Linked DNA regions of Homo sapiens. The protein of the gene in region 3 interacts with the protein of the main gene of each other region in a biochemical or structural test. Each region holds a gene or a part of one and is shown on either strand. Other genes may lie near its edges.

What was found.
Region 1: of the proteins of PSRC1 (region 3) and AURKA, one has a biochemical effect on the other in vitro, tested with the Homo sapiens proteins (one study listed by BioGRID).
Region 2: of the proteins of PSRC1 (region 3) and ASB7, one has a biochemical effect on the other in vitro, tested with the Homo sapiens proteins (2 studies listed by BioGRID, with this or other methods).

What each region holds. Positions count from the first base shown.
Region 1 is NC_000020.11:56,382,162-56,389,278, forward strand, and holds part of AURKA (aurora kinase A), read right to left. Parts: intron 6,624-7,117; exon of another isoform or gene 6,248-6,623; coding exon of another isoform or gene 6,151-6,247; intron 6,042-6,150; coding exon of another isoform or gene 6,037-6,041; coding exon 5,995-6,036; intron 4,373-5,994; coding exon 4,096-4,372; intron 2,164-4,095; coding exon 2,109-2,163; intron 1,016-2,108; coding exon 824-1,015; intron 1-823. UniProt on the Homo sapiens protein: Mitotic serine/threonine kinase that contributes to the regulation of cell cycle progression.
Region 2 is NC_000015.10:100,647,519-100,652,248, forward strand, and holds the end of ASB7 (ankyrin repeat and SOCS box protein 7), read left to right. Parts: intron 1-804; coding exon 805-944; 3' UTR 945-4,183; downstream 4,184-4,730. UniProt on the Homo sapiens protein: Probable substrate-recognition component of a SCF-like ECS (Elongin-Cullin-SOCS-box protein) E3 ubiquitin-protein ligase complex which mediates the ubiquitination and subsequent proteasomal degradation of target proteins.
Region 3 is NC_000001.11:109,280,145-109,287,240, forward strand, and holds the start of PSRC1 (proline/serine-rich coiled-coil protein 1), read right to left. Parts: upstream 3,002-7,096; 5' UTR 2,919-3,001; exon of another isoform or gene 2,593-2,918; 5' UTR 2,555-2,592; coding exon 2,536-2,554; intron 2,432-2,535; coding exon 2,374-2,431; intron 1,917-2,373; coding exon 1,475-1,916; intron 1,108-1,474; coding exon 993-1,107; coding exon of another isoform or gene 903-992; coding exon 633-902; intron 346-632; coding exon 252-345; intron 13-251; coding exon 9-12; coding exon of another isoform or gene 1-8. UniProt on the Homo sapiens protein: Required for normal progression through mitosis. Required for normal congress of chromosomes at the metaphase plate, and for normal rate of chromosomal segregation during anaphase. Plays a role in the regulation of mitotic spindle dynamics.

The DNA.
Region 1 (7,117 bases), on a different chromosome or scaffold from region 3:
TCAAAAAAAAAAAGGAAAAAAAAAAAGGACATGGCATTGCCACAGTAGTTTGACACCCAGACACTGTGACAGATAAAAGCAGTGATCAGTAATGGCAGTAGATGGGTGCTGAGCAGACTGGGCAGGTGCAGACTGTGGCCAGCGGGAAGCAGGCAATGGGAAGCACAGCCCATGTGAGATGCCTGCCCCTCCCAGCCCCAGCCAGGTGTTGCCAGGCAGAGACACACCAGGCCTGATGTGGCCAGACTTGAAGTATTAGCATCTGATTCAAATTTGAAAAACACTGAAAGAAAAAAAGGAAAAACAAAAACCCACCAGCCGTAGTCAACCTGCAGGTAGCTGCTCGCAATTCCTGCATACCTCAGAATAAGGGGTGCCATTCCCCTTCACTGTCCACCAGAAAGACTTGCCCATATAAACTATTCTATTAACAAAACATTAAATCCTCAAGTGATTTTTCCAGGATCAGAGCACTTAAGTGCTCTTTGAAAGATGACAAATTTAATCATTTTTTGTGGTACTATGAAAAGCAGGCCCTCTAAAAAATAAATTTATACTTAAAAAAAAAAAAAGGAATACAATTTTATTTTAACATGCAGAGCATGGGAGAATCACAGGAGAATGCTTATAACCCAGTGCAGTACAGAAGCTTATCTAATCTTTTTCATAGGGGAGGGGGAGGTGAGGAACGGGGCCATGCATTTGAAGGCAGTGCCTCGTAAGAGGGAGTGAAGGGACCTGGGCAGTGGGAGGCTGACATTACAGGAGGGGGAGGGGTGCAGCATTGGTGAACATTCTTTTGAACATGAACCTGAAAACTCACCGAAGGTGGGACTGTATTTCTACTTCTCTTCTGAGCTGATGCTCCACTCCGGCTTTCTCCAGCTGAGCTTTAAATAACACTTTAAGAGCCAGAATAAACTTGCTTTGCTTTTCTCTTGCCAAATAAACATTACCAAACTTTCCTTTACCCAGAGGGCGACCAATTTCAAAGTCTTCCAAAGCCCACTGCCTCCTAGGAGGAATTTGAACACTTTAGAATGTGAAGAAAACAAAGCTTTTCTAACAAATTTTCAATGAGTAGCAGACACATTCTACAAATAATTTCGTATTCCAACTTCACTCAATATGCATCCTCAGCAAGAACCAAGGCAATAACCACTATCAAAGAGCTGCCACGACATGAAACCCTGACGTCCCTAGCTGCCGTCAGGTGTGAGAGTCAGTGACAAGGAGCAGTCTCGGGTTTTAGACCTGAAGCACTCTATGGGAAATGTCCCAAGCCCGTACTATGCTCAGAGGAACAGGGCCATGACAACGCTGAAGACCACAAAAAGGATAAGTGACCAGAGAGGGAGGAATGCTTCCAGACCATCTGGGGGCATGTTTCAAACTAACCCCAGCTGCTCCCTCCAGTCCCAGAGGTGCTAATTCTCTCTGGGTGGAGAACCACTCTGGTGGTGGAGACAGAGCCACTGTTACTAATGGAAGCGGGATGGAGCCCACAGGCTAGCTGGGGCATGAGAACCAGTGGATTTAGACTCTTAGCCTCTGTTAGACCGCTAAAAGCAAAAGAGTCTGTGGGTTCATTCCTCGCTCCTCCCGGTACATTCTAGAGTCCAGATAGTTCAGAGACTGAGAGGAGGCTTTTAGAAAAGCCCTGGGGAAGACATTACAGCCAACCTTTACAATAAAGAACTAAAACTATAATACTGTCAAAACCCTCAGTCATATATGAGTATATAGTTCTGCAACATATTCTATTTTTTAAAAACTTGCACTTTTGTACAATAAAAAAGTACAGACGCATAAACCATATGTAGTGGTTATTTCTAAGGACAGAGAGGAACTTCCACACATTTCTATAAAAGATTCATACAAGCTTTTTCTAAATTTGAAAGCCATTTTTTAAAGCACTTGAGTTCCTAGTAAAATACCTCATTACACAAAATTCCATTTTTTTTAAGATTGGAAATCTGGAAACATTTATATCCTCTAAATGCAAATAAAGGCCTCATTTTTTTCCCCAGAGTTCCCACAACGAAATTTGCAACGAAATAATATATTCTAGTAGAACAGTACAGAACTTTGTAAATAAGAAAGCTTACTTTTTTGATTCTTCATTTTTCTGTTTTGATGCCAGTTCCTCCTCAGGATTATTTTCTATATGGAATAAGTTAAAAACCTGTTTTTAGAATAACTATATAGGATAAGCTAAGCTGTGAATAGAGGTGAATCAAAGAATTGGTCACCAAAATATTAATGGTATGTCAAGAATGATAAATCTGTTTTTTTTTTTTAAAGTTTTCCTTATAGAAAAAAAGGACTACTACACCCTGACTTCCATCATGTGAAGCCTTTATAGAATTTCTAAAGATGAGCAGACGTATATATAGACAGGCCCTTCTCTGATAAATTAAAGGCAGACTATGCAGGCTCTTCTGAAGCCTCAGTTTCCAAAGAAGAGCTTTTGTGGCAGAAGTACCAATCTTCCCATGCATGACGAGCTGCCAACTCGTCACCTTTTTCCCCTTACTAGGTGGGCCAGCCAACAGTCCATACCCTACATACGAATTATCACCAACATGTAGCAAAACATAAGCCAGCCACCCTCCATTTATATTAGCTGCCAAGGGGAAATATAAAAATAAAAGCCACCAATTCAGCAAAATGCACAATGAACAGTTGTGCAGCAGAGGACTGGGGTAACTATTTCATCAGCCACAAGGACATATGAAACATTTCCACTGGTCTGTCTCCAACATAGCAAACTCGAACAGCACACAATGCTCTGCTCAGATATCTGGATGCTGGTCCAAACTCTTCCTCCAGATGCCCCTGTCACATGTGCACCCCTCAACCCCCAGGACACTCACTCAATTAATATCAATCTAATCACCATCCCTAACTCCTCTTTATTCATCTTTCAGGTACAATTTATTGCCCAGTTCTAATGAGTCTGCATCGTAAATGAGCTCTCAAATTTGTGTGCACCTCTCCATCCTGGCTTGTCTTTGGATAAGTTAACTGCTTCTGAGTCTTAGCTTCCTCCTCTGTAAAACTGAGTTAATAACTGGCTACCTTCATGAAGTGGTTACGAAGATTGAAAGAGATGACGTGGATGAAGCACGCACTTATCTCAGAGCCTGCAGGGAATGAGCACTCAACAGTTGGTAAATAATTGCATCCACTCTGCTCCACACAGAGCAGGTTATTGCCATCTCTGACCTCAACCTCCTTCCTGTCTGGTACTCCTAAATCCAGCGTTCTACTCCAATTTATTCAGTACTTCCACAGTAAATTTTTTTTTTTTTTTTGAGATAGAATTTTGCTCTTGTTGCCCAGGCTAGAATGCAATGGCACAATCTCGGCTCACCACAACCTCCACCTCCTGGGTTCAAGCCATTCTCCTGCCTCAGCCTCCTGAGTAGCTGGGATTACAGGCGTGCACCACCACGCCTGGCTAATTTTGTATTTTTAGTAGAGACAGGGTTTCTCCATGTTGGTCAGACTGGTCTCCAACTCCTGACCTCAGGTGATCCACCTGCCTCGGTCTCCCAAAGCGCTGGGATTACAGGCGTGAGCCACTGCGCCTGGCCTTCCACAGTAAACTTTCTAAAAGGCAGAGTTCCCTTCTGAGTTCAAAAAAGCTTCAGTAGCTTCCAAATGCCCTAGAGATGAGGCCCCATTCCTTAACATGGCCAGCAATGCCCATGGTGACCTCACCGCAGCCTGCCTCAGTTCACCCACTTCTCTGGATTTCCCCCACACTTTAGATCTCAGTCCCTTCAAGTCACTTACTGCAAGCACCCTACATCCAGACTCAGTAACAAGCAATCAAAAGGACACCAATTTATGCTGTGTCCTCCCTGGGTGCCCAACTCTTCCAAGAGGGTGAGAATCAGGTCTGTATTTTTAGCATAGGTCTGGCCCATGGGCAGACACTGTTACTTCAACCCAGACACCATATTTTCTCCCCATCCTCAACAGATATAAAAGCTAAGGCTCCAAACAATAAGTGCAAGTATATACACTGGCTTTTTTAGCAACGACGACAAAGAAGGACTATCCAATGAGTCTCAAAAGCTAGTTTACCAGGTGCCGATGGCAGGGGCTGCTTGCTCTTTTGGGTGTTATTCAGTGGCCTGGAGACAGGATGAGGTACACTGGTTGCCTGCAATTGCTTCTGCTTCTGATTCTGAACCGGCTTGTGACTGGAGACAAGCTTTTGTGCTTGCAAAGGAATGCGCTGGGAAGAATTTGAAGGACACAAGACCCGCTGAGCCTGGCCACTATTTACAGGTAATGGATTCTGACAAGGAAATTGCTGAGTCACGAGAACACGTTTTGGACCTCCAACTGGAGCTGTAGCCTAGAATGGAAGAGAAAATAAACTTTCTGGCATTCATGAAAGCAAAAGATGAATATATTGAGAATTTCACAAAGTTTGTTCTCTAGTATAGCAAAATAATGAATGTCACTGATAAGAGATGGAAGGTGAAAAGGTATTTTAATCAGTACCTCCAGAGGATAGTTAGTATGTGGCTAAGAATACCTGAATGATACCTTCTATCCCCTCCAATTCCTCACCCCTAAAAATCATGCTTTATTAACAAATATCCATTAATGAAGGAGACACTTTCTAAAATTTCTCAATAATTTGGAAATAGACACTACATTGCTATTTGGCAAAAAGCTATGATACAAAAACTTTATGCCAAAATCTCAGTTCCATTGAAATTTCTTTGATAATATACGTTTAAGAAAAAGACCAAAAAAAAATACGTCAAAACGTTCAACAGTGGTATTATCTTCATGAAGTTTTAGAAGAGTCTAAGTTTTCATATATCGAAGATTTTCCACAATAAGCTTATTACTGTACTATTGATTAACCAATGTTTCATTTTCCAAGTATTGACAAAATGGAATTGAGCAAAAAACTGACAAAGAGGAAACAAATGTAGACACTTCACAAAGTTACTACTAAAATGTATTATTATTATTATTTTTGAGATGGAGTCTTGCTCTGTCACCCAGACTGGAGTGCAGTGGCATGATCTCGGCTCACTGCAACCTCTGCCTCCCAGGTTCAAGCAATTCTCTGCCTCAGCCTCCCAAGCAGCTGGGACGACAGGCGCCTGCCACCACGCCTGGCTAATTTTTTGTATTTTTAGTAGAAACAGGGTTTCACCATCTTGGCCAGGCCGGTCTTGAACTCCTGACCTTGTGATCCACTCTCCTTGGTCTCCCAAAGTGCTGGGATTACAGGCGTGAGCCACCGCGCCCAGCCTTGAAATGTATTATTTATACGCCTGTAAGTACTGTATTACAACCTTAAATTGTTAAGTTAACTCTAACACCCTCAGCTAATCAAACTAAAAGGGGTAGGAGGGATGAGATTTCCTTCAGCTTCAACAGCTCATTGTAAGTGAGGGACAAGTGCTAGAAATGAAAGCCTCAAAGTCCATCCCCAGCTCAACGGTATGAGTGCTCTACAAAGAGAGGGTGTTAAGACTTCCAAATACAAAGTCAGTTACTCCTGAAATTAGCACACTGTCCACAACGCAGCAGGCATTCAGACAAAGACAAATAAAAAGAAACATTTTAAATATAGAGCAATTTTTTAAATGGCCGTTATCATAGGAACTTAGAATCAAATACAGTAATTCAAGGTAGCCTTTTTCTAATTATTTTATATTTATGGCCAATTTTAAAAGTTTTGAACTCCTGCCAGATGCATTATTACTATTATCCTGCATACAGTGGAGGGATATAGAAACTTAAGCAGCCGATTATAAGACAAAGCAGAACAAAAAAGCTACTCTAAGAAGCAGCAAAATGTTACTGAACACGAGAAAAGTGACTAATTCATATCCAGGATCACAGTAAGGGATCTAAATTTAAATCCAAAGTAAAGGCGGAAAGAATTCCCGACAAGACCAACCTCCATGTGGGTTTATAAATGTGAATGAGATTACAGATTATTCAATTTACCTTAACAGGTCCTGAAATGCAGTTTTCTTTAGATCGGTCCATGATGCCTGAAAAGAAAAAGAAGAACCTTTAATTTGAACAAAGCCACCTGCTTAAAGTGCTGTTGCTCGATAGGCAGCGTTACAGTTCCCCAATCAAAAGGCCTCCACAACACACCGGATTTTACATGTTTTGTCCAAATGAAGCTAATGAGGGAGGGACAGGCATGTGCTTTCCCTGCAAGGCCAACCTCCCCTTGGGCACTGCGTCCCATCCTCTGTCACGGAGTCTTCACTCCTGATGGTCTTGCTGCTCCATCATCTCTCCTCTAATGGATCACTTCCATCCCTGTGCAGCCTACTGGCATACCTGCTACCTTAAAAAAGTCCTCTTTAGGCCGGGCATGGTGGCTTACACCTGTAATCCCAGCATTTTGGGAGGCCGAGGTGGGCGGATCACCTGAGGTCAAGAGTTCGAGACCAGCCTGGCCAACATGGTGAAACCCCGTCTCTACTAAAAATACAAAACTTAGCTGAGCGTGGTGGCAGTCACCTGTAATCCCAGCTACTCGGGAGGCTGAGGCAGGAGAATCACTTAAACCCAGGAAGCAGAGGTTGCAGTGAGCTGAGATCACACCATTGCACTCCAGCCTATGGGAAAAGAGCGAGACTTCGTCTCAAAACAATAAAATAAAATAAAAGTCCTCTTTATTCTATTATCGTTGCTAACAATGACCCCCTCCTCTCCAACAGCAAAGCTCCAGAAGAACCGTCCACACTTGCCACCTCTACTGCTCCTCTCCCCTCCCCTGAGCCCATCCCCACCTGGCTTTTTTGTCTCCACCACATTGTCAGGCTCATGGCTGACACCTACTGCTGCCAAACCCAAGGGTCAATTCCACCTTCCCCGTACTTGCATCCTCAGCAGAATCTGACAAGGTTGATCACATCTTACACTTTTTTCTTCACTTCACTTCCAGGTTTATCTACCACCTAGTCGTCCTGTCTTTCCCTCCTTGCTGGGTCAGTCTCATTTTTGCCAGATCAAGGGTCTGGGGTGACTCAAGAACGAGTCCCTGGACCCTCCACTTCTCCATCTACACCTTCACCAGGGATCCATATCACCCAGTGCCTCAGCTCTAAAT
Region 2 (4,730 bases), on a different chromosome or scaffold from region 3:
CTGTATTGTTTTTGTAAAACAAAATATTCCAAAGGGAAAGAAATAGGATTTTGTGATTTTTCTTTTGAATTGAGATATAACGGGTTTTTATTGGCAAGTGATCAGGGTGTGGAAGCTTGAAGCGATGTAGATTCAGAATACCTTGAGGCGCTTTTTCACACCCCCTTCTGCTGCACTCCTCAACTGTCAGCCTTACAACCAAGGTTCTGCTGTGTTCAGAATCACGGAAAACAGGTGAGCAGATCTGGAAAGCTTGTTTGGAAAGCTCCACAGAGACCGTGGTGGGTGTCCGGGCTCCAGTGTCCTAGACCCAGAGCTGAAAGGGAGGCTCACAATAGGGGACATCTCTTTCAGTCCCCACACTTTTCAGATTGAGAAGCCAAGGCTCAGAGGAATGATTGGCTCACAGTGGCTCACCCAGCGTGAGAGAGACCTAGTCAGGACGAGAACCAGAATTTTCCTGATTTATAACAGAAAGGATATGAGGCTTAGAATCAAAACTGTTTTTGGTCTCAGTTGAAAGCCTTAATTGGTTGTCTGATATTAAGCAACTTGTTTACATCTGATACTCAGTTTTCTTATTGGTAAAATGGAGTTGAAAATATCCACCATCCCACGGTTGTGAAAAGGATCAAATAAGGCATCGCATGAAGGTCCTAGGACACTTTGAGTTGGTATCTTTCCGGTCCTTTGCATGTCAAGTCCATAGAGAGAACTTCCAGGGAAATGAACAGTTCTTTTCAAAAGTGCCTTAAATATTGTGCTTTGTGGCTTTGTAACATTTTCTTTTTTCTGTCTTTTTAGGACAGCCCAGAAACTTGCAGGACCTGTGCCGAATTAAAATTCGACAATGTATAGGCCTTCAAAACCTAAAGCTACTTGATGAACTACCAATTGCCAAGGTCATGAAAGACTACTTAAAACACAAATTTGATGATATCTGATATGCCAGAACTGTGAGCAAGATTAGGAGTTCTATTCTAGATACTTAAAAGGCTTTTTGCCTTGCACAAAGTATATCCTATGCAATTTCTGATTTGCTGTGAAATCAGAAAGCAGGTATACACTTTTGGGTTTTCTGTTTGTTTGGTTGGTTTTCATTGTAGGGGAGGGATTTTTTATATATATATAAAAACACACACCACATGCTTGAAGGTCTTAATTTGGTTTCTTGGTCCAAGTTTAAGAGGTCCAAGCTTTGTATACAATACTGCATTTAGAAAAATTGTCTTTTCTTAAATGACACAAGCAGGTTTAGAGTGGAGAATTTACCCTTTCCAAATTTATGGTTCCTTGGTAAGCACGGTATTCTAAACCAGCAGAGCACTTGTTAACGTTTGGAGGCACAGTTTCACCCAGGGCGACCCTGGGTTCTTTTGGAAAATGCCCTAAGAAATGTTTGAAGTAACGCTGTCACCTCATTCATTTTTAATGAGTACAAACTGGCCGTTTCAAACTGTTCTTTTTCCTAATTAATGTAGCTTTCGGATGACATAAATCCAGTATCTCTGCTTATGACATAAATCCAGTACCTCTGCTTTTCTTTTGCTGTGCTCTTGTTTTTAACTTATTTTTTTTTTAACAACTGTAGTACACTACCCTGAGACACTGCATCTCGATTTCTATCTCTAGTTAGAGTTGTACTTTTAAAAAAATTAACGGGAAAGAAAATAACTTTGTGAAGCCAGTGTATTCTGTTTTTAAAACTGTGCCTGCAGTGCAATACTCCTTCTGGTGTATTTTATCCATTATTTCACTTGCTGGTCGTCATTTCACAGCCAGCTTTGACATGCCCGTGAGGACAGGAGCCGCCGCTTCAGTTGTCACTGCAGAGCCATCGTATGTCAGTTGCAATTTCCATCTGAAGCTATGTCTTTGACTTCACTTTAAGCAGAAAATTTTGTACCCTGGTGGTCGAGTCTTCCCTTAAAAATTGTTAAATCATTTGGCTTTAATGGTTCAATAATTTGGGGTGGCTTCATGGTGTTTCTTTTCTTCCCAGTTTAAAAAAAAAACTTTTTAAGCGTAAAATCTTTAAGGGGTACACATTTATAAGTCTGGCTAATTTCTAATATGCTAATTAAACATTTCCCATTTTAAGGTTATATACAGTGAGGCTCTTCAGGACAATTATTTTCTGGGTTGATTGGGCATATGTTTGCCGTGTAAACACGGATATGATAAAGTGTCAGTAACAATGGAAAAGGTCCCAGAGGCATTAGGCATCTAAGAGGATGCCCTCAGAAACGTATTCTGGCTTGATTTGTGTTATTAACTTCAGAAGAACCTTTTCAAATGTCCCAGTATCGTTCTTAGTGCTTTGGGAAAAAATATTTAACACACTGTTAATAAATTTGTTATCAGAAGTTTACAAGACGAAGGGCTTCTCTCGTCTGAATTTCTAGATTTAAGTCATGAAGTGTAAAACTGTTTCACCCAGAAGTGTAACTAAGCAGAACTAGGAGTTTTCTCTGGCTTCACCTTTTTCAGAGCCAGCAGTGCTGTTTTCTCAAGCACAGCGTTTGCTCTTAGACTCTGATCTGCTTGTGCCTAAGCATTGCACAGGTTTCCGAAGACGGGCAGCTTCAGAGAAGAGGATTATTCGGGAGATTGCTGGTGTGGCCCATAGACTCTTTGGCATAGACTCTTTCGCAGGCAGCCACTCTGAGTGTGGCCAGTTCTATAACCATCCCCAAACTAGCTGGAGCCTGATGGATAGGAACGGGTAGTCTGTCCTCTTCCCCATAAAAATGTTCCAAAAAGTTATCTCCAGAGAGAGTCCCTTATGAAGACAGTTGCCAAGCTGTATTCTCATTCTTTAAACCAATACCCAGGTCAGGGCTAGTTCACACTAGCACTGTTAGGGACATGGTGTGGCTAGAAATGAATTGAGTGTGACTTCTCCCTACAACCCCAGGCCCAGGGATAGGAGGAGGCAGAGGGGTGCCTGGAGTTTCTGCACTCTCATCAGTGATGTTCATGTTACACTTGCACAAGGGCTGATTTCCACGTATGTGTGTGTTAATTTATTCACTTAGTTTCAAAAGATTTTCTCTCCCCAGCCATTCAGAGGTTTCCAAACTAAGCCACTGAGTTTGAGTCAGGGAATTCCACGTAAAAAGATCAGATTAAGGTAAATTCTTTGTTCTGTATTGCTGCTGTGACTTCAGAAAAAAAAAATTATGAGAGCTCTTCCTGGAATTTTGAAATTTCTATTTAATGAAGAAGTGTATAATTCCATTATTTATTGTTTGAGGTTTGATTTATCTGGAAGCTTAAAAAGAATGTTTTATTTTTGTTGTTAATAAAATCCCAATCACATTTCACAATAACTAAAATGTCTCCAGGTGGGTTACTGGTAGATGATAGTGGTGACACCTGCAGGTCTGCATTTGAATTGGATTCACAGAGAAGCATTCCATGGTCACATAATGAATAGGGAGAACAGATATTTTCAGAAAAATCAACCGATTGTTTTTTCCAGAAACAGAACAGAAAATGTTCAGAATATTTTCAAATTTGTCAGATTCTTTTATGTTTCCTTTGAAATTTATTATTTAAGCCTATTACTAAACCTTTATAAAAATATATTTGGCAAATACACCAAAGAAACCAGCTTACAAAAGATTATGATCATTAATGAACTGCAAACCTCATCTTTCGAAAACAAGGTTTTGTGTTTTTTTTTTTTTGTAAATATTTGTGTTTATAAATGTACAGCAGAGTAAGAGTGTTTTTTAGATTATTTAATTCCCATATTTCTAAACTATTTACTACACAGTAATCCATGCCTGTTAGTTTGGAGGACTTGACTGTCTCATTTTTTAATTCATTGTCAGTCATGCTTGGAACAGCATTTCCACTAGAGAATCCAGCGTTCTGGCAGTAGCAAGAGTACACATCTGGAGCATGAGGGACTCTAGCATGACTCGTCAGATGCACACCCCAAGAGACAAGAATGTGTAGTTTAATGACCGGCGTGGACCATACGAAATTGAGATTCTAACTTTCCTGCAGGAGTGCTCATGAGCCCAGAATGTGATTGGGATAAGGCCATTTGCCCACAAATTTAGCTTTCATGTAACTCCTAGTGTGTTATATCATAATGTATTTTGTTCTTCCTTTTTAATGTAAGTTTTGCTTTGGGTCAATTTGAATTAAAAAAATCAAATCTGATTTAAAACATGTTGGAGTTGTATTTTATTTCCAGTCTACCTTAAGTTTTTAATATGTCCAGCTATTTGGTGAAAATAAATAAAACTCTATCCTTCCTTCATCAGCATTTTAGATCGCTGGGAGTTGTTTAAGAATATGATGATGTGGAAAACAATACCACTCTCCATTGTCACCAGATAAGCCATTTCTTACCCTCCTTTAATTTGTTCAATGCATTCTGCAAATACCCACCAACAAAAGATGATCACAGTGTTGAGTGTATCGACCCAGCACTGGGCCTTCTTGGGCCGTAATCGCCACCTGCCCCGTGCGTGCCACACCTTGACTCACGACAGGGTTTAGACCACAGCGCTTCTAAACGTAGGACAGCATGCAGTCAAAGCAATGCATCTGACGGAGTTACCCTGCAGGAGATGAAGCAAAACAACTTTGATTTCACATTTCCTCTATAAAACATAAGCACAGCTTGATTCAGGAGAGACCCGAAGTGAATGTGGATGATGGTGTGGCACTAAGAGAAAGGGAAGAGGGACTGCTTAGCACCCCGTGCAGAG
Region 3 (7,096 bases):
TGATCTCTTTACCTAAAGAAATAGAAGGAATAACTGCTTTAAAATGCCCTTCTTCCTCAAGCCCATTTGTCACCCAGCAGAATTCAAGCTCCTCAGGGTGGGAAGAAATGGGATCCCCCTTCCCCTGCCCCAGGCTCCCCTCCTCTCTCCATCTTTCCATACAAAATTCAGGGCTGATGTGCATAACAGCTTGGAATCCCAGATGATGGCGGGGTAGGGAGACAGGATGGGCAAGGGAGGACCAGACTGACCTGGTAGGTCCTGGGACTGCCACTTTCCTGGGGGGCTGCAGATTGCTGCGAGTGGCACCCATGACAGGAAGATTTAGTCGCTGGGAAACAGGAACTTCATGGGGGTTAACAAAAGAAATGAGTTAGCAGCAAGTTTAACTGACCTCGAAAAGAAATACTGGATGAAGGGAGCGAGTGTGGGATTAGTACTCTCCCCCTGACCATGAGGTATTTGAAAACTAAGACTCAGACTCTGTCCAGCCCCATATCCTCTCTGTAACTCAGTCTCCCCATCTTCCAATTGAATTGCAATAAGGATGGCAAAAGTGGTCACTGTTGACAGCTCTGGGAGGGTGAGGACACGCTGGGCAAGGGCGGGCATTCTTCCTCCTGACCTCTTACCCTTGTGTCCACTTTCCCGCACTCTGTGTCCTGCAGTGCTTGGTCTTGGAAGCCCTTTTCGAGTTGACAGAGAATCCGGAGGTAGGGCACCTCTGCCAGGTGGCACACTCCGGCTGGTGAGTGGCATTCGGCTGGCAGGCCTGGGGATGGCCGAGGGAATGGGCAGTTGACTGGAAGATTTAGCAGCTGCTCCCTGCGGCCGGGGCAGGCGTTGAGAGTTGCTGGTAGAAGGCTGTGGGGCCAGGACGGATCTGATGGGGGTGGGTGGGCCTGGTGGAGAGGGGTGGAGAAATTTCAGGGTCAATCCCACAAACTCCCCACTCCCACTCACCCGCAACTTGGCTGCTCTGGTCTCCTCACTGGCTGCTGCTCTCCCACTGGGCCCGGCTCTCCCCCGGACTGGGGGAGTCGATCGGGTAAGAGGAGAAGATGCTGGGCTTTTGGATGCAGGGAACAGATTGCAAGTGGGTGACTCCTGAAACACAAAGAGAGAGAGAAAAAAGACTAGAGTGGAAAAAATATCTGTTCTGTGGCTTAAGGAATTAAGAAATAGAGGTGGAGAGTTGTCTACATCCCAGTAAGGAAGGGTAGAAGTTAGCTGCTAACATCACCACATCACCATCACCATCACTATTGCCAATACCATTTATTGAGTTTATCATAGACATATACTCAGACACTGTGGTAAGAGTTTTGGTTCTCTTTTTTCATGGTTCTCATTTAATTCCAACAATTCTAGATGTAGAAATGCTATCCCTGTTTTACCAATAAGGAAACCACTCCCTGCATCATGGCACACACCATGTCTGGGGCACACCTCCAACTCAACTCTCTCAACTCACCCTCTTCATGTTGGAGGGCCTCTTTCCAGATGTAGCCCGGAGAGCCCTGACTGACCCCTTCCTATCATTACTCCGGAGTCGAGGCGTCAGGCTGCTTGGGGAGGGGGTGCTCCGCGTCAAAGAGTTCACAGTGGGCAGCAGGTCTCGGACAGGACTATCCTTCAGCACAAAGGTCTCCCGCCGAGGACTGGGCTTCACTCGGCGAGGCCCCAGGCCCTCGCCTGCGCTCTCCCGATCCTGCAGGGCACACTGCTCCAGCTGAGCGGCCAGCCGGTTGGCCTCATCGAGGATCTCCTCCAGCTTCTCTGGACTGAGGGGGCCTAGGCTGAGCCTCACACCCTGGGGGGCAGGTGCCACTGCATTTGGGTCACTTCGGTGGGAGAGGCCCCGTCGAAGTGGTTTCTCTGGAGTCACCAACACTGTTATGTCTTCCTCCTCACGGCTGAGACAGGAAACAAACCAGGCATCATGCCCATGCAAAAGGGAACAGGAGATTATGCAAGGGAGACTGCATAAAAGCCCCACAACAGAGCCAGGGACATGACCCTAGGCCCCGATGCCCATGCTGGCTGTGAGATGTGGCCTCTGGGCGATGAGATACCTGGTTCTATGGGGCCTAATAGGCCTTTAGCATTTACGGACATCAGAAATGATGCCAGGATGGAGATGCAGCAAATCCACTTATCCTTCTTCTTAACACCCTGAAATCTAACTCCAGCTTCTCCCTTCTCTCCCCGCTACCAATAGTGTCATAGAGGCCCGAGTCAGCCAGCCGCCCAGCAGCCCCAAGTGCGCCAAACCTTGCTAAGTTACCAACCCAAGCCAATAATTCAGCAGTAAGGGATTCGAGACAAAGAGGTACTGTTAGAGGAAAATAAGTGGGATAAAGAGGCTGGTACCTGTCAGATGGTGACAGCCCCCCAAAGTCCAAGGTCTCATCCACAATAAACCTTACATCTGAAGGGGAAAGAAGAATGAAAGCCAGTCATGGGTCCCTGATGCAGCTCTCCATCGCTGGGTCTCACTCCTCCCTTTCATTCTTCCCTCCCTCCTTTCCTTACCTTCCTCCAAATCCTCCATGTCCAGCCAGCAGGAGCGAGAGTCCAGTTAGATCTGAGCTGGAGAGAAACCATACCTTTCCTCAGGTATCCATTCTGCCCAAGGCTCGCAGCTAGATTCAGGGTGCAAGCCAGGGTCGGGGGTCATGCTGGAGGCAAAGCAAGCGCCCAGGAGTGGCACCTCCCGCACAGCTACTCCTGCTACCTCCGGGAACGATACGGAGGGCTCCCCCAACTGCCCAGATTGCCCTGGAGCCGCCCTGCATCCTGGCCTCTCCTCACTGGGGGCGGCCTGCACGCCCCATCTTCCTCCCCGCCACTATCCTCAGGGTTCTGCACTCCCCAAGCCACCTTTCCACTCCCCTGGCATCACACGCGAAGCACACCTCCAGCCCACCCTGTGTCCACTTCCCGCGCCGCCTTATCTTCCACGCAACAGGCTTTCTCCCGCAACCTAGTCCCGGGAATCAGCTCCGAGGGGGCGGGGCTCCTTTCGAATCTCTCAGGCCCCACCTACTCAAGCCACACGCGCACCGTGATTGGTGAATCCTCAGGGGGAGGGGCTGAGGAGCTGCCGGCCGGAAGTCAGCCGGTGGGGGCTGGGGGAGAACCGTTCCCAGAAGACTGCATCCCGGTGGCGGAGCCGAGGGTTGAGGCTGCGAGTGCGCGTGCTCGCGTGCGCGGAGACTCTCTTTCCCGTAGGCAGATGGGAGCAGAGCGCGGCTGGCCAGGAGGGAAGAAACGGACCCACGAGTATGGAACTCGCGCCCCGCCCCGCTCCCTCTGCTGGGCCGCCGAGCACCCAGTCTCCAGAACGGTTGTGCTGCCTAACGTGGCCGCTAACCGACGCTCTACGGGAGGAAATTCGTTTTCTTGGGCGCACTCAATATGCAGGCGCCGCATTGGCCGAGGTTCCTCAGTTGTGGGTTTTTTCCAAGTTAAGGGAGCACCTAAACACTTATATTGTAGGTATATTGAGGTTCTCTTAGAAGTACATCCTCCATCGCCTCTTCAAGAACCTGAGGCAGCTGAGGTGCAAAGAAAGCAACGGGCTTTTCACGCAGGCAGGCTTAGGTTCAAATGCAACCCAAGTTTAACTGACCTCAGAACCCAAGTTTCGGTTTAGAGGCGGCTGCCTTGAGTATATTTGCCCTCTTTTCACCTCTCTTCGCTTATCTGTGAAAGGAGGATGTTGGTCCTCGCAGTTACGGTGTTACGAGGATAATTATGAAGGCGTTTTCTACCGTGTGCCCTTAGGGGATTTAGAGGGGGTGTTTGTAAGTAGCCCCCTCTGAACTAAAAGCAGTATTTGTAAAATGCTTAAACCAACTTGTTAGGAGTGTTGTCTCTGTTGTTTCTAAATGTTGCCCGGGCCACCAGTGAACTTGTCAGAGGCTTCAAACCAGAACGACTCCATCTGGAATAGAGGCTGGGTAAAATAAGGTTGAGACCTGGGCTGTATTCCTAGGAGGTTAGGCATTCTAAGTCACAGGATGAGATAGGAGGTTGGCACAAGATACAGGTCACAAAGACCCTGGTGGTAAAACAGCATGCGGTAAAGAAGCCAGCCAAAACCTACCGAAACCAAGATGGCGATGAAACTGACCTCTGGAGGTCCTCAGTCCTCATTATACGCTAATTATAATGTATTAGCATGCTAAAAGACACTCCAGACAGCATCACCACGGTTTACAAATACCATGGCAACATCAGGAAATTACCCTACATGGTCTAAAAAGGGGAGGAATTCTTAGTTCCAGGGAGTTGCCTACCCCTTTCCCGGAAAACTCATGAATAATTCATCCCTTGTTTAGCATATAATCAAGAAATAACCATAAAAATGGCCAACCAGCAGCCCTCCGGGCTGCTCTGCCTCTGGAGTAGGCATTCTTTATCCCTTTTCTTTCTTAATAAACTTGCTTTCACTTTATGGACTTGCCCTGAATTATTTCCTATGCAAGGGCCAAGAACCCTCTCTTGGGGTCTGGATCCGGACCCCTTTCTGGTAACAACAGGAGGAGACAGCAGGTCCGCACAAGATACAGATCTCAAACATCCCTCTAATAAAACGGTGCAGTAAAGAAGCCGGCCAAATCTGCCAGAAACCAAGATGGTAAAGAAAGTAGGCCAGGCGCGGTGGCTCACGCCTGTAGTCCCAGCACTTTGGGAGGCCGAGGCGGGCGAATCACGAGGTCAGGAGATCCAGACCATCCTGGCTAACACGGTGAAACCCCGTCTGTACTAAAAATACAAAAAATTAGCCGGGCGTGGTGGCGGGCCCCTGTAGCCCCAACTACTCGGGAGGCTGAGGCAGGAGAATGGCGTGAACTTGGGAGGCAGAGCTTGCAGTGAGCCGAGATCGCACCTCCGCACTCCAGCCTGGGCGACAGAGTGAGACTCCGTCTCAAAAAAAAAAAAAAAGAAAGTGACAGCTGGTCATCCTCACTGCTTATTATATGCTAGTTGTAATTCATTAGCATGCTAAAAGACACTCCTGCCAGCGTCCTGACAGTTTACAAATGCTATGGCAACGTCTATATGGTATAAAAGGGAGAGGAGCCTTCAGTTCCAGGAAATCATGCTCCTTTCCCAGAAAACCTATGAATAATCCACCCCTTGTTTAGCATATAATCAAGAAATAACCATAAAAATAGCTTACCAGCAGCCCTTGGGGCTGCTCTATGGAGTAGCCATTCTTTTATTCCTTTACTTTCTTAATAAATTCACTTTCACTTTACTCTGTGGACCCGTCCTGAATTCTTTCTTTTGAAAGATCAAAGAATCCTCACTTGGGGTCTGGATGGATCAAGACCCCTTTCCAGTAATAAACTGAGCTCCTAGAAAGGTTCTGAATATTTAAAGTGAAAAAGCCCTAAGGGAATGGTTGAGGAGCTTTCTGGTAAACAGAACCTGAGCTTTAGTCCTCAGAGTTCATGCCCATTTTTTTGGCCATTTATAGGCTTTCTTGTTTACTTTCTAGTTTTTGGCTGTGACGTTGAGGTGGTGAGGTCTGCAGGAGTGAGATGTCACTGTAATAAATGCCACCAGAGACCAAGAAGCTGGAAACCAAAAATAAAATTCTAAGCCCCCCAACCAACTGAATGGACCCCTTCTCTCTGACAAGGGCATTCCAGATTTAACCTGGAAAACTAGTTCAGGCCATAATGGAAAGTGGGGGTTGGACATGCCTCATTATACTCTCTGCCCTTTGGGAATCAGGCACAGCTGACCAACATTAACATTAAAACAGAGATCTGGCCAGGGGGCGGTGGCTCACGCCTGTAATCCCAGCCCTTTGGGAGGCCGAGGCAGGCAGATCATCTGAGGTCGGGAGTTCAAGACCAGCCTGGCCAACGTGGTGAAACACCATCTCTACTAAAAGTACAAAAAAATTAGCCGGGCATGGTGGTAGGCACCTGTAATCCCAGCTACTTGGGAGACTGAGGCAGGAGAATCGCTTGAACCCAGGAGGCGGGGGTCGCAGTGAGCTATCACGCCACTGCACTCCAGTCTGGGTGACAGAACGAGACACTGTCTCAAAAACAAAAAAAACAAACAACAACAATAACAACAACAAAACCACAAAGATCTTAAGGCTAAGGAAACAGACTTTTTTTTTTTTTTTTTTTTTTGAGATGGAGTCTCACTTTGTTGCCCAGGCTGGAGTGCGGTGGTGCAATCTCAGCTCATTGCAACCTCTGCCTCCTGAGTTCAAGCGATTCTCCCGTCTCAGCCTCCCGAGTAGCTGGAATTACAGGCACACGCCACCAAGCCCAGCTAATTTTTGTATTTTTAGTAGAGATGGTGTTTCGCCATGGCCGTGAACTGCCTCAGGTGATCCGCCCACCTTGGCCTCCCAAAGTGCTGGGATTACAGGGATGAACCACCACGCTTGGCCAGAAACAGACTTTTTGTAGCAATAATATTACTGGAAAGGGGTCCCAATCCAGACCCCAAGTGAGGGTTCTTGGATCTCACACGAGAAAGAATTCAAGGCGAGTCCATAAAGTGAAAGCAAGTTGATTAAGAAAGTAAAGGAATAAAGAATGGCTACTCCATAGGCAGAGCAGCCCGAGGGCTGGTGGTTGCCCATTTTTATGATTATTTCTTGATGATATGCTAAACAAGGGGTGGATTATTCATGCCTCCTTTTTTTAGACCATATAGGGTAACTTCTGGATGTTGCCATGGCATTTGTAAACTGTCATGGTGCTAGTGGGAGTGTAGCAGTGAGGTCACTCTCATCATCGTCTTGGTTTTGGTGGGTTTTAGCCGGCTTCTTTACTGCAACTTGTTTCATCAGCAAGGTCTTTATGACCTGTATCTTGTGCTGACCTCCTTAGGATCTCATCTTGTTACTTAGAATTCCTGTCTGGGAATGCAGCCCAGTAGGTCTCAGCCTTATTTAACCAGCCCCTATTCAAGATGGAATTGCTCTGGTCGAAACGCCTCTGACAATAAGACGCCAAATTCCAGCCTGATTCTAGTATAGTATCACATGACAGACAGTAGGCCCTGAAAGAAATTAAAGTATTTTACCTCAAAATATATTTTTCTTTTCTTT